Homo sapiens: one gene and its partner. The protein of the gene in region 1 interacts with the protein of each later gene in a biochemical or structural test. Each region holds a gene or a part of one and is shown in the gene's direction. Other genes may lie near its edges. The genes, in order: NTF4 and LRP1.

Region 1 (4,503 bases):
GCTAGAAGCTAGAGTCCTCCTGCTATGCGGCAGGATGTATTGGCTGTTTAGGAACAGGGGAAGGGTGGAGAAGCCGGAGAGGTGACCTGAATGCACACCCAAAGCCTGGGAAGTGGCCCTTCCCCCCACCCCCAATAAATAACTGGAGCGGCCTTGTGTGTTGCCTTGGCTGGGATGGTGAGGAGCAGGAAACACCCTAACCGGGGACACCCTCCTGCCACCTTGCCATGCTATATTTAGGCTGAGGGGGTGTGGGATGACCCTCGAGGCAGGTGTCAGTTTTCCTTCTGAAAATAGCGCAGGCGGAGGGGAGCGGAGTCTCAGGGTAGAGGTGTGGTGGGGTGAGGAGCCCCGCTGCCCTCATGACTGTCCTGAGACACTCCGGCTCCGGTCCCATCCCTGTCTTTCTCAGGGTCTCTCAGGGGCTCTGTCCCCTTCTCGGGGGGGTGGGGGGGTCTGCCCTCACGCTCTCTGGGCCTCTGTCTTCTCTCTGGGCTCCTGCCCTCCCCCACTCTCTCTAGTCTCGGTCCCCCTCTTTCTTTTGGTCTCTCCCCACTTTTCCATGTCTTCTCCCTATCTCTCCCTTCATGTCACCGCGCACCATTTCTCAAGGTAGCTGATTGTTCTTAAGACACATCTGTCTATCTCTGGTCCTATGATACCTTGCACGTCTCTTATCTGAGCTCAGGACAAGACCTTCTCCCCGGTCCCCAGCCAGGAAATTCCAGGGGAGAGGAGTATGCGGGAGCCCCCACATCCACTGTCTCCCCGGGCCTGGGGCCTTATCACTGCCCAAGCCCAGCTGGTTAATGTCTGGCGTGGAGCTCCTGGGAAGTGGGGAGGAGAGCAGAGGGTGGGAATCTGCCCCGGGATTGACACGCAATTGGCAAAAGACGGCAAAGGAATCTCAGGCCCAGACTCCTGGGGCTAATGGAGGAGGAGGCTGGGGGCTGGACTCCTGAGTCTGAGACGGGGCGGGGTTGGGAGGTGGTGGGGGGAACTGTGGGCTTAGTACTCAGGCGCCTGGGGCTGGGGGGAGAGGTGGCTGGGGTCGCAAGTCCTGGGTCTGAGGGAGGAGGGGCCGGATGCCTGGACTCCTGGGTCTGAAGGGAGGAGGGGCTGGGGGCCTGGACTGCTAGGTCCAAAGGAGGAGGCAGCTGGAAACTGGGACTCCTGTGACCAAGGCGGCCGCGTTGAACGAGCCAGGCCTGGCTTCCAAGGTCCCGGCACGCGAGTGCAAGGCAGGATCCCCCGGCCCCTCCTCTGCCGCCCGGCGCCGCCCCGCCCCCGCCCCCGACCCGGGCCCTGCGGAGCGTGAGCAGCTAGCACCCGGCGGGCCAGCGAGCGTCCCTGCAGCCAGCGAGCAGGAGGAGGAGCTGCTGCCGGGCGGAGGGCAGCCGCGGGAGCCGAAGAGGGCGCCCCAGGTAAGATCTCCACTCCTCCTCCCTCGGGATTCCGGCGTCCTGGTCGCCCTGCCCTCGGGTGGGGAGGGACGGGGGCGGGGCCGACCGGGGCGGGGCTTGGCGGAGGAAACTGAGGCAAGAGGGAAGTGTCCCAGATATGCAGCCGGTTTCCCCTGAGGGGTCTCGGAGTCCGGAACCCCCAACCCAAATCTGGAGGATGAGGAACCCGGAGTCTGCATTTCTTAGTATCCGAGAAGGAGGGGCCTGAATTCCAGAACTCCTGGGTCTGAGAGAGGAGGGCACTGGGGGCCTGGATTCCTGGGTCTGAGGGAGAAGGGCGCTGGGGGCATGGACTCCTGGGTCTGAAGGAGGAGGGCGCTGGGGACCTGGACTCCAGGGTCTGAGGGAGAAGGGTGCTGGGGGCCTGGGCCTGGACTCCTCCTGGGTCTGAGGGAGAAGGGTGCTGGGGGCCTGGACTTCTGGGTCTGAGAGAGGAGGGCGCTGGGGGCCTGGACTACTCCTGGGTCTGAGGGAGGAGGGCGCTGGGGATCTGAACTCCTGGGTCTGAAGGTGGAGGCCCTGGGGTCTGCACTACTCGGTCTGAGGGAGAAGGCGGTCCTGGTTGGGTCAGCCTGGGCTCCTTTCACTCTCCACCCTTCCCCTTTCCTGTACCGAGGAGCCAGGGCAGGCAGCCACTCCAGGTATGTGCAGAAGTCTTGGGCGGGCCCTGGCCTGTCCTGTGAGGAGGGAACATTCCAGGAAGCAGCTTGGGGAACCAGGGCTTCTTGAGTGTGGGCCCTCAGGGACCCGGGTGTCCAGGCCAGTTCCGCCCCATCTGGGAGATGAATGGGCCGAGGGGGATGTAATCTCTTCCAGCCTCCTTCATCCACTGCCTCTCCCTTCCCCTATTCTCCCTTCCCCTCCCTCCATCTGCTTCCCATCCCAGCCAGGAGCCATCACCTGGGTAGAAAAGGGGCCTCTGGAAAGGGGGCGGGGCCTTGACTCTTGGGTACCCTGCACTTGAAGAGGAACTCTGGGAAGGGGTTGTTCAGGGATTTGGCCCCTTCCCCACCTGCCTCTATAACCTGTCTATTCTTTTCTTCCCCTAGGTGGTTGCCCCCTCCCTCTCCTGAGATGTCAGGAAGGAGGGGGCCACCTGTGTCCTCCACAGGGGCCCCCCGAAGCCTGGGGACTCCCAGCCCCAGAGCTCCGAGGCGGAGGAGGTGCTGACAGGTCTGGTAACTACTGACTGTTTCCCAGTCTTCTCCACGCCACCCTTTCCCAGAACCACAGGCTTCCAGAATGTTGTAGGGAAACTGCAAAATCCGCGCCTCCACCAGCCTCTCCCAGCGCCAGGTCAATTTCACACACAGGGAAACTGAAGCCTGCCTCAGAGGGGCAGCGTTTTACCTCCTTAGTGGCAGTTTTGAGGTGAACTGGGGTCTCCCTAGGATTCCAGGTTGTGACCTTTCTCTAAATTGTGGAATGTGGCCAGGCGTGGTGGCTTGAGTCTGTAGTCCCAGCTACTCAGGAGGCTGAGGCAGGAGAATGCCATGAACTTGGGAGGCGGAGCTTGCAGTGAGCCAAGATCGTGCCACTGCACTCCAGCCTGGGCGACAGAGGGAGATTCCATCTCAAAAAAAAAAAAAAAAAAATTTTGTTTGGGACCAGGCATGGTGGCTTATGCTTGTAATCCCAGCACTTTGGGAGGCCAGGACACGACTATTGCTTGAGGTTGGGAGTTCAAGACCAGTCTGGCCAACATGGTGAAACCCCATCTCTATTAAAAATACAAAAATTAGCTGGGCACAGTGGCAGGTGCTTGTAATCCCACCTACTCAGAAGGCTGAGGCAGGAGAATCACTTGAACCCAGGAGGCAGACATTGCAGTGAGCCAGGATTGTGCCACTGTACTCCAGCCTGGCCAACAGAGTGAGATTCTGTCTCAAAAAAAAAAAATTGTTTGGAACATCCTCCAAGATGCAAGACTGTCGGTTCCTCAGAGTTGCACAGGAAGGACGGCAGAGTGCAGTTGCCCAGAGGTGAAGTCCCATCTCTGCCATTTGCTGGCTGTGTGACCGGGCACAAATCATTAACTTCTCTGAGCCTGTATTTCAACATCTGTTACTGTTAAGTAATAGTAGTTGAATTATTTTTATTTTTATTTTATTATTATTATTGTTTTTTAAGACGGAGTTTCGCTCTTGTTGCCCAGGCTGGAGTGCAATGGTTCAATCTCAGCCCACCACAACCTCCACCTCCTGGGTTCAAGTGATTGCCCTGCCTCAGCCTCCCAAGTAACTGGGATTACAGACATGCGCCACCACACCCGGGTAATTCTGTATTTTTAGTAGAGAAGGGGTTTCACCATGTTGACCAAGCTGGTCTGGAACTCCTCACCTCAGGTGAGCCGCCCATCTCGGCCTCCCAAAGTGCCGGGATTACAGGTGTGAGCCACCATGCCTGGCCTTATTTTTACTTTTGAGACAGAGTCTCACTCTTGTCGCCCAGGTGGCAGGGGAGTGGTGCACTCTCTGCTCACTGCAACCTCGGCCTCCTGGGTTCAAGTGATTCTCCTGCCTCAGCCTACTGAGTAGCTGGGATTACAGGCGTGCAGCACTATGCCCGGTTAATTTTGGTATTTTTGGTAGAGATGAGGTTTCACCATGTTGGCCAGGCTGCTCTGGAACTCCTGACCTCAAGTCATCCACCTGCCTCAGCCTCCCAGAGTGCTGGGATTAGAGGTGTGGGGCACAGTGCCTGGCCTGTAGTAGTTGAATATTTATTATTAATCTACAAGTTGCGCATTACGCAAGCCCTAGATATAGGGTCCCCCAAACTTCTAGAACAAGGGCTTCCCCACAATCCTGGCAGGCAAGCCTCCCCTGGGGTTCCCAACTTCTTTCCCCACTGAAGTTTTTACCCCCTTCTCTAATCCCAGCCTCCCTCTTTCTGTCTCCAGGTGCTCCGAGAGATGCTCCCTCTCCCCTCATGCTCCCTCCCCATCCTCCTCCTTTTCCTCCTCCCCAGTGTGCCAATTGAGTCCCAACCCCCACCCTCAACATTGCCCCCTTTTCTGGCCCCTGAGTGGGACCTTCTC
Region 2 (3,800 bases), on another chromosome or scaffold:
TATGGGCACATCAGAAACTTTGGCAGAAGTGCCAGGGTTGAGGGTGGGTCATCGAGGGCTCCCAGGATTTCACACATTCATGCACAGCTCCCCAGGAGACGCTAACCTTTCACTGCCCTCTCTTCTCCAGCCCTGACTAGTTTCGAGGTGGTGATTCAGTATGGCCTGGCCACACCCGAGGGCCTGGCTGTAGACTGGATTGCAGGCAACATCTACTGGGTGGAGAGTAACCTGGATCAGATCGAGGTGGCCAAGCTGGATGGGACCCTCCGGACCACCCTGCTGGCCGGTGACATTGAGCACCCAAGGGCAATCGCACTGGATCCCCGGGATGGGTGAGGACCTTGCCCAGCCTTCTCCTGGCCCCATGGCCCCCCTGAAGTCCCATTCAGCCTGGCCAGGGACACCTTACTCCTCAGTGCCATCTGCCTCCTCCCACCCTCTACCTACGATCCCACCACAGTCGCTCCCTGAGGGCCCTGACTTTAGCCCTCCTGACCCCTCCCCACTCCCCAGGATCCTGTTTTGGACAGACTGGGATGCCAGCCTGCCCCGCATTGAGGCAGCCTCCATGAGTGGGGCTGGGCGCCGCACCGTGCACCGGGAGACCGGCTCTGGGGGCTGGCCCAACGGGCTCACCGTGGACTACCTGGAGAAGCGCATCCTTTGGATTGACGCCAGGTCAGCACCCTCTGTGCCCTGAGAAGGCCCAAGTCTGTGGCACCAGGACGGGGTGGGGAGGAACCTGTGGTGATGAGGGTGATGAGAAGGACCAAGGGATCTAGAACTAGGAACGGTGGCAAAGGACTGGGCACAGGAGGAGGAGGACGGAGGGGCGTGGGGAGGCCAGGGCCGAGGGGAGGGGGCAGGTAGAGGAGGCGGAAGCAGGGCCATCAGCTGTGGTTATTCACACTGTACCATCCTCTCCACTCACCTGTCCTCTCCACTCTGTTCCCTCTGCTGGGGCTGTGTCTGCCCAGAGGGAGGGGAAACTTCTTTCTAATTGGTCTGCCCAGGGAGGGTGCCTTTTTCTTTTCTTTTTTTTTTTTTTTTTTTGAGACAGAGTCTCGCTCCGTCGCCCAGGCTGGAGTGCAGTGGCGCGATCTCGGCTCACTGCAGGCTCCGCCCCCCGGGGTTCACGCTGAGGGTGCCTTTTTCTGACTTTCATCAAAGCCCTGAGTGCTGACAGCAGCCCTGGGGAGAAGTGACCGAAAGATTCCCTTGGGGCTTGGGAATCGGGGCCTGAGAGGTGAAACCTGGACCTGTTGGGTTCTCACACCTTGGTCCTTCTGTCTGTCTGCTCTGGCCAGCAAGGCTTAGGGGAGGGAATGGTCCCATGCTCTTCGCTGGGAGGGCTGTGGCCAGGGCCCAGAGGGTGGGCACCTGGGCAGAGCTCTGAGGGCTGAGATCCCAGCTGGCATCCTCATTCTGCTCCATCATGCTCTTAGGTCAGATGCCATTTACTCAGCCCGTTACGACGGCTCTGGCCACATGGAGGTGCTTCGGGGACACGAGTTCCTGTCGCACCCGTTTGCAGTGACGCTGTACGGGGGGGAGGTCTACTGGACTGACTGGCGAACAAACACACTGGCTAAGGCCAACAAGTGGACCGGCCACAATGTCACCGTGGTACAGAGGACCAACACCCAGCCCTTTGACCTGCAGGTGTACCACCCCTCCCGCCAGCCCATGGGTAAGGGGCTCGGGGCCTCGAGCAGCCGGAAGGGAGCCAGCAGCCTCTTTAGAAGCTGTAGAAGCTCTTAGGAGAGGAGAGGGCAGTGAGAACAGGAGCAAGTCTGTGCTGGGATGGCAGGGGTAGGCCGGCTGTTGACAGAGGCACTGTCTAGCAGCAGAGAAGGGTCTAGTAGTAGCGGCTGCTGGAACAGGGGGAGGAGAGTGGGCGAGGAAGGGGTGGTCCATGTAGGGAGCAGCAAGTCACAGGATGCTCTGGCTTCTTCTCTTCTCCACCCTGCCCCCAGCTCCCAATCCCTGTGAGGCCAATGGGGGCCAGGGCCCCTGCTCCCACCTGTGTCTCATCAACTACAACCGGACCGTGTCCTGCGCCTGCCCCCACCTCATGAAGCTCCACAAGGACAACACCACCTGCTATGGTAGGAGCCCCTCCCTCCAGAGCCAGTGAGCAACTGAGGCTGGAGGGAAGGCCGCAGGCCCCAGGATCCCGGTTGTCAGCTAAGGCAGAGTCCCAGTCGGGAGGGTCCCGATAGGAGAGGCTCCAGAGACAGCCACTGTGAGAAGGGGCTGCAGGTCTGCCAGGGGGGCTGCACCCAGCGGGGTATGTCCACGGAGCCAAGGGCCAGTAGCAAACAGACGGATCCAGAAGAAGGCAGGGCCTGAAACCGGATTGGTGGGAAGCACAGAGGCAGGGACTGCCTTCAGTGACCAGCCCATGCCCCACAGAGTTTAAGAAGTTCCTGCTGTACGCACGTCAGATGGAGATCCGAGGTGTGGACCTGGATGCTCCCTACTACAACTACATCATCTCCTTCACGGTGCCCGACATCGACAACGTCACAGTGCTAGACTACGATGCCCGCGAGCAGCGTGTGTACTGGTCTGACGTGCGGACACAGGCCATCAAGCGGGCCTTCATCAACGGCACAGGCGTGGAGACAGTCGTCTCTGCAGGTTCTTCCTGGCCCTGGATGCCCACCAGTGGACATGGGCACCTCCACCCGCCCCTTGCTCCCAACCCTGGTCTACTTGGTCCGAGTGGTCCTTCTCCCAGTCCTGTTCCCCCTCAGTGCTCCAGCCTGGTTTCCTGATCCCTTTTCTCCAGAAGGCACACTGGCTCCCCTCCTGACCCACTGCCCTGCAGACACCCAACAACTGACTCCCTACTTGTGCCCCCAGACTTGCCAAATGCCCACGGGCTGGCTGTGGACTGGGTCTCCCGAAACCTGTTCTGGACAAGCTATGACACCAATAAGAAGCAGATCAATGTGGCCCGGCTGGATGGCTCCTTCAAGAACGCAGTGGTGCAGGGCCTGGAGCAGCCCCATGGCCTTGTCGTCCACCCTCTGCGTGGGTCAGTCTAGGGCCCAGGGCCGGGGAGCATGGGGTGTGGGGCTGGGAAGAAGAGGACCCTGACCTTTCCCTCTTGGCACCCTCCCCCCAGGAAGCTCTACTGGACCGATGGTGACAACATCAGCATGGCCAACATGGATGGCAGCAATCGCACCCTGCTCTTCAGTGGCCAGAAGGGCCCCGTGGGTACGAGCTTCCCTGCCCACCCCCACAGCCCCTCCCTAATTCCTTGACCAGCAGGTGCTTGCAGGGTCCTTCAGTTGCCCCTCAGCCTCCCCAGAGCCCTAGCTTAGTGCCTGTTCTCACCATCTGCTCCCTTCCCTGGATCCCCAGCCCTGGGCCAGACTCCCCGGCAGTGACTCCCCCTTTTCCAGGCCTGGCTATTGACTTCCCTGAAAGCAAACTCTACTGGATCAGCTCCGGGAACCATACCATCAACCGCTGCAACCTGGATGGGAGTGGGCTGGAGGTCATCGATGCCATGCGGAGCCAGCTGGGCAAGGCCACCGCCCTGGCCATCATGGGTGAGGGCTGCTGGGCGAAGCAGAGATGACGCAGAGCAGGCCAGGCCAGACCTACTGGGAGACAGGGGCTGGCTTGGGGCAGTCTCTCACCATGTGGGGCGGGCCTGATGACTTAGGGCCAATGGGCCCTTCAGGAGAGCTGGGTGTGGGGCCTTCCCAAGGGTCTCATCCCCTCCTGCTGCCCCAGGGGACAAGCTGTGGTGGGCTGATCAGGTGTCGGAAAAGATGGGC

What was found.
Region 2: the proteins of NTF4 (region 1) and LRP1 form a complex in vitro, tested with the Homo sapiens proteins (one study listed by BioGRID).

The regions. Positions count from the first base shown.
Region 1 is NC_000019.10:49,061,872-49,066,374, reverse strand, and holds the start of NTF4 (neurotrophin-4 preproprotein), read left to right. Parts: upstream 1-1,556; 5' UTR 1,557-2,636; exon of another isoform or gene 2,637-2,759; intron 2,760-3,624; exon of another isoform or gene 3,625-3,718; coding exon of another isoform or gene 3,719-3,736; intron 3,737-4,365; coding exon of another isoform or gene 4,366-4,377; coding exon 4,378-4,503. UniProt on the Homo sapiens protein: Target-derived survival factor for peripheral sensory sympathetic neurons. May promote ameloblast differentiation and subsequent reduction in proliferation of ameloblasts.
Region 2 is NC_000012.12:57,176,911-57,180,710, forward strand, and holds part of LRP1 (prolow-density lipoprotein receptor-related protein 1 preproprotein), read left to right. Parts: intron 1-130; coding exon 131-335; intron 336-516; coding exon 517-681; intron 682-1,448; coding exon 1,449-1,693; intron 1,694-1,979; coding exon 1,980-2,111; intron 2,112-2,418; coding exon 2,419-2,646; intron 2,647-2,871; coding exon 2,872-3,046; intron 3,047-3,136; coding exon 3,137-3,231; intron 3,232-3,419; coding exon 3,420-3,569; intron 3,570-3,756; coding exon 3,757-3,800. UniProt on the Homo sapiens protein: Endocytic receptor involved in endocytosis and in phagocytosis of apoptotic cells. Required for early embryonic development. Involved in cellular lipid homeostasis.